Linked DNA regions of Homo sapiens: region 1 is linked to region 2. Evidence: fine-mapped expression QTL. A gene starts in region 2. The other region holds a variant in brackets. All regions are shown on one strand. Distances are from middle to middle.

What was found.
Region 1: its variant is fine-mapped to the expression of GRHL3 in lung (TOPMed, PIP 0.94).

Annotation. Positions count from the first base shown.
Region 1 is chr1:24,191,349-24,194,258 of GRCh38, forward strand. No RefSeq gene overlaps it. Among named protein-coding and RNA genes, the nearest start is that of IFNLR1, 5.5 kb to the left of the region's middle. RefSeq lists an enhancer at 60-149. The variant C/A (reference allele first, on the strand shown) is at 1,599.
Region 2 is chr1:24,317,882-24,320,791 of GRCh38, forward strand. GRHL3 (grainyhead like transcription factor 3) reads left to right here and starts at 1,476. Exons shown (of 16, transcript NM_198173.3): 1 at 1,476-1,687. The coding sequence starts at 1,671. All of the region lies in intron 1 of GRHL3-AS1 (GRHL3 antisense RNA 1), which reads right to left.

The sequences.
Region 1 (2,910 bases), 130 kb before region 2:
TTCCAACAGGCCCCTATTCTTGATTCAGTCTCAGCTCACATGCCACTTCCTCAGGGAGGCTTTCTTAACCACTGTCTTTGATTTGCTCCCAATCCCCATGTATGTCTCTGACTTAGCCCATTTTGCGCTGCTGTAACAAAATACCACAGAGTGAGTTATTTACAAAGAACAGAAATTTATTTCTCACAGCTCTGGAGGCTGGGAAGTTCAAGTTCAAGATGCCTTCAGGTTATGACCCAGTCTCTCTGCTTCCAAGATGGCACCCTGAATGTTTTGTCGTCTGAAGGGGAGGACACCGTGTCCTCACATGACAGAAGAGGAGAGAGAGAGAGAGAGAGAGAGAACCCATTCTCACAAGCCCTTTTTATGGACTCATTAATCCATTGATGATGGCAGAGCCCTCACGACCTACACACCTTCCATCAGGCCCTACTTCCCAACACTGTCGCATTGGGGATTGAGTTTCCAGCACATGAATTTTGAAGGCCACATTCAAACCATAGCAGTCTCTTTGATATGAATTAATCACAATATCATCATTTTTGTGCACTGAATATCTTACTTCTTGGATACAACTCTAATGACTCGCTCAGGGCCTGGCACATAGTAGGTGCTCAATGAACTGTGAGTAAGCAAACCTTTGCTGAATGGGGCTCAGTCAAACACAATTTCATATGCCCTAAACAACTCAGCCCCTCTCCTGGTTCTTATCTGCCACGCCTTAGCCACTCACTAAGTGTTTACTGACTTGAACTTGGCATATGACTCATAGTTAGAAGACCTCAGTGTTTCTTTCGAAAGTATAACTCCACTGTCATGCTCCCCTCCATAGCTGGGATTTTACAGTCTTCTGTTGTCCCCAAGAATAATGTTTAAAAAATAATGTGGCTGGGCACGGTGGCTTACGCCTGTAATCCCAACAGTTTGGGAGGCTGAGGTGGGTGGATCTCCTAAGGTCAGAAGTTCAAGACCAGACTGGCCAACGTGGTGAAACCCCATCTTTACTAAAAATACAAAAATTAGCTGGGCGTGGTGGCATGTGCCTGTAATCCCAGCTACTCGGGAGGCTGAGGCAGGAGAATCGCTTGAACCTGGGAGGTGGAGGTTGCAGTGAGCCAAGATCATGCCACTGGACTGCAGCCTGGGCAATGACAGCAAAACTCTGTCTCAAAATAATAAAATAAAATAAAATAATAATAATAATGTGCAACAGGGGAAACAAAACCACATTACTCTGTGTGTGTGTGTGTGTGTGTGAGAGAGAGAGAGAGAGAAAGAGGGAGAGAGAGAGAGAGAGGGAGTTCACAGCCTCTCCCTCTCCTGTCTACTAAGATAATTATGCGCAGGCTGGCAAAGTGTCCCATAGGACTGGGAAAAGGCAGGAGAGGAGGCAAAATGTAAAAGCCAATTGGGGCTGGGTTTTAAAAGTCAGTTTTGGGGGACATGTGGAGAGAAAAGGAGCAAGTGCAGGGACCAGCTGCTCTAAGAGCTGAATGTGAGTGTGAATATGAGATGTATGGAAAGAGAGGTGGAGAAAATGGATTTCCAAATTTTTGGCTCTGTGTCAGGACTGAAATTTCTTTTGGCATTTTCCCCCC[C/A]CAAGAAACTAAAGATTTTAAACCATTGTTGTTTTGACTATTATTCTTCTTGCTGTTGTTTTAATGTAATGCTGGAGGCAGGCAGGGCCCAGTACAAGAACAAGGAGATCATTTGTATGTGGGAGTGGAATTTAAGACTTTACCAGCTGCAAGAACACAAACTCTAAACTGACATAAGTGCAAAAGGAATTCTGCAAGTTCCCCAGATTGAGAAGTTCAAGGATGGATGTGGCTCTGGGACGGCTCTAGTGGAAACAGATTCTGATTGGCCTGGCTTGGGTCACATGCCATTTCCTGAGCCAATCGATGTGGTCAGAAGAATGGGCTACTGTCATTGGCCTCTCTGGGTAGAATGCCCATCCCGGGGGAGAGGGGTAAGGGAGTATTCTGATTGACAGCTCCTCCAACTATAGGAACTGGAGGAAGATTGGTTCCTCAGAGGAATGGAGGCTGCAGAGGCAAACGGCATACACCCACTGCTGGGTTGCAGAGGAGGAGTCCTTAGAGATCATCCCCACCAACTTCCTACCCTGAAAGTCTACCCTCTTCAACATCCTGGAGAGACCAGCTGGATGCTGCTGCTTGGACTCATTGGGGGACGAGATCCTGCTATCTTTTGGGGCTGCCAATTCTGTTTGTGAACAGTTCTAGTTAGGAACATCGCCCTTACTTTGACCTACCTCCTTGTAATTTACCCTAGTCATCTAATTCTTCCTTTTGGGGCCTCACAGAAGAAAACAAAGCCCTTCTCCCCATGCCAGCCTTTACAGATGTTAAGTCTCAAGATCCTTCTTGTAGATGGTGCACAGATGACAGCCAGTTTCCTGGTGTAAGAGCACCAGCCTGGGAACCAGGAGACCTCAGTTCCAGCCCTCACGCCGGCTTTAATGCAGCGAAGTGGCCTTGCTTGGAGGGAGGTATACACAGTTCCCATTTCACAGATAAGGATACTAAAGTAAAGGGAGGTTAAGAGACATGCCCAAGGTCACACAGGTGGAAATGGGGAAGCTGGAACTCACATCCAGGACCACACAATTCCAAAGCTTCTTTCTTTATCACTCTGTGGTCTTGAGAAAGTTACATCCTTTCTCTGGGCCTCAGTTTTCTCATCTGTAATTTGGGAACTTTCATGTGTATTAGAATCACCTGGCTGGAGTGCAGTGGCATGATCACGGCTCACTGCAGCCTCAATCTCCTGGGCTCAACGATCCTCCTGCCTCAGCCTCCTGAATAGCTGGGACTATAGGTACATGCAGCCACACCCGGCTAATTTCGTTTATTTTTTGTAGAGACTTGGTTTTGCTGTGTTGCC
Region 2 (2,910 bases):
TGCTCTGAGGAGGTGGCTTTATTAGCAATTATTTACTATTATTTATTAGGGTCCCCTGGGCTTCCCCCAACACAGCCTCCAGGGAGAAACCAATCTCTGAGAGTTCTCAAACCCAGTACCCCCTCTCCAGAGCCCTGACCCCACCCCAAGAGGGCTCCTTTGAATTCTGACTTTACCCTGAAAAACCTCCATAAATTGGCAGGGGTAGCTGAAACCTCACTTGCCGTTCCCAGAGAAGAGAGAGAGGAGTGGGCCAAGTTGAGGTTTCCAGGAAGACACAGCAAAGAGATAATTTGCCAAAAGGGGAAGGGTGGGGGAGGGGAGAATAGAAAGAGAGAGAGGGAAAAAAAGATGCCAAGATCTCTGGCTTAGATTTAATTTCAAACTAATCCTGGAAGAAGCTCTTTAAAAAGCTCTTACATTCTCCTGTTTGTGTTTGTGGATATTCTGGGGTTTACCAAGCTTGTTCTTTATAGTAGACAGCTCACAGCAATTACTCCACAATTACTTCATCTGACAGGCATTGAATTTCTCCCAAGTTCCCAATACAGAACGAAGCACTTGGAGCCTGTGAAATGACCAGCTGGCTGAGGCTTCAGAGGAGCCTTCAACTTTTCTATCCCTTCTGTGCTGACCAGAGGTATGTGGCTTGCCCACACCCCCTTCACACCCAATAAAAGCCTGTTCTCCTTTACTCCCCCACCCCCTGCCACCAACACACACCCCCCAGATTGTAAACTCCTTTAGAACAGTAACCCCTGTTTTTTCTGGCCTCAGTTTCTCCAGAACCCAGAGTAGGGTCTGGCACACAACGGGTGCTCAATGAATGTCTACTGAATTGAGGCCACTGACTTCAGCCCAAGGGGCAGCCAGACTTGGAGTGAGATGACTGCAGATTGGATCTGGGCTGGGACCTCGCTAGCTGTGCCCTTGGGCAAGGCACTTTGCCTCTCTGGCCTCCATTTCCTCCCTCATCTGTAAAATATGTGTTGAAGAGGAAGGGGGAAGCGATAATAAATCTACCACGGTAGGTTACTTTAAGAACCAAAAGAAGTCACTTGAGTAACTGCAAAAGATTATTCAAAAATATTACCTTAAAGGGGAAACTGAAAAAAAGGGAACTTATACAAAGATCTACCTGGGAAAAGTTGCTCTCTCCTTTGAGAATTCCCCAGTGGTACAGAAGGAGGGGGCAAAGAAATTTGGGGGTGGGGATGTTTCTGGGTATCTGGGACAATGACTAGAAACAGGAATCAAGTTTTCCTTTAAGCCAAGTTATCTGTTTGTCCCTGTACTTTTCCTCTAGTTATCTTGCTTCTTTCCAACATTTTCTTCTCCATCCCTCCTCCCTCATCTCCACCCCCCACCCCCTCACCAAGGAAGGAATTGGCCAGCTCCACCCAGCCAGTCCCCCATAGCTCCGCCCTCCTCGGCGGGCTAAGAGTTAACAGCTGCACCTGTTGAGGTATACCTCCAGTCGCCGGCACCTGTACCTGTAGCCAATCAGCGCCAGCGCTGCTGGGAACCTACCTGTCAGCAAAATCTCGACACCCAAACCTCAACATAAATCAAACACTTTCCCGGGCAGAGAATGTCTGTGTCAGGCAAGAATTAGAGACAAGCGGTCAGCAGAGCCTCAGTGCTGATCGTCGGAGCTTGGGAGCAGGAAGATGTCGAATGAACTTGAGTGAGTAAACATCGGTGGATACCTGCCGCTCTCAGAGCGTGGAGGCTGGATGGGGTTTCCTGGAGGGGGAAGAGCGGGGAGGCCGGCACCGGGATTCACAGAGCAATTTGTAAGGGTAAATGAATGGGCTGACGATCTTACTTTGGCGTGTCAAGGCAAGCCCCAGTCTCAAGCTAGAGGTGAGTGTTTCCCTGGGAAAATAGTTTTTCTCATTCTCTTTGCTGAGCAGTTTCGAGCCAGGCAGGGAAACACAAGACTGAAACTGTGAAGGTTTCTGGCACCACTTTTTGATCCTCTGAAGGGGCCTTGGAAATCAGACGACCCCAATCCCATCGAGGCTTTCTATCTTCTTGCCAAAAGGAACTTCTTTAAGGTAGTTCTAAGAGCTGTCTTAGGCAGAGAGTTGGGTTTCTCTAAAGGGACTTGTTTGCTGGGTTGGAACAGTCCCAAGTGGGAAGGTTACAGTGTGGTGGTTAAGCATGTGTACTCTTTGTAGTGGGCTTGACCTAAGTTCAAATCCAGGCTCTGTCCCTGGGTGATCTCAGACAAGACATTCAATTTTTCTGGGCTTCATTTTCCTCATCTGGAAAATGGGTACAAGAATGCTTTGTAGAATTCTGGAAAGAGTTAAGTGTGATAAATGCTGTAAAATGCTTAGCATAAAGCTATGGTCTGAAGATGCGTTCAGTAAAATGTGGTTCCTCTCATTCAGAGGCAGTTCTAAGGCTGGGGAAGATGAGAAGTGATTTTTGGTAGGTCACCTCTTTTGGCTGGGAGGATGCATGTGCCTTCCTGCCCACATCTGAGATTTAAGATCCTGACTGACTGATGCTGATCTTCACCATGATGTCCTTCTTGGGGTCCAGACCTTAGAGAAGGTAGGGTGAGGCTGGGATCTGGGCTGCTTTAGATTGGGTTCAGGGAGCTGGCAGGAGAAGCCAGAATCCTTTAAACACAGGCTCTCCTTTTCCTGCCACCCTCAGAGGTGAGTGGGCAGAGGCAAGGATTGTACCATCTTTTTTCTAACTGCTCCTCAACAGACTTTTAAGAACTTGAAGATCTGTGGGCAGACAGCAGTGCTAGGTCCTGACTGCAGACCGGATTCTATGTTCTAGCTAGCCCTTCAGCTCTTCATGTTCACAGCACAATCACTTGGGTTAACAGGCACATTTCTTTTGAATGAATTTCCCGGGGTTGACAATGTATTGACAATTGGACCGCAA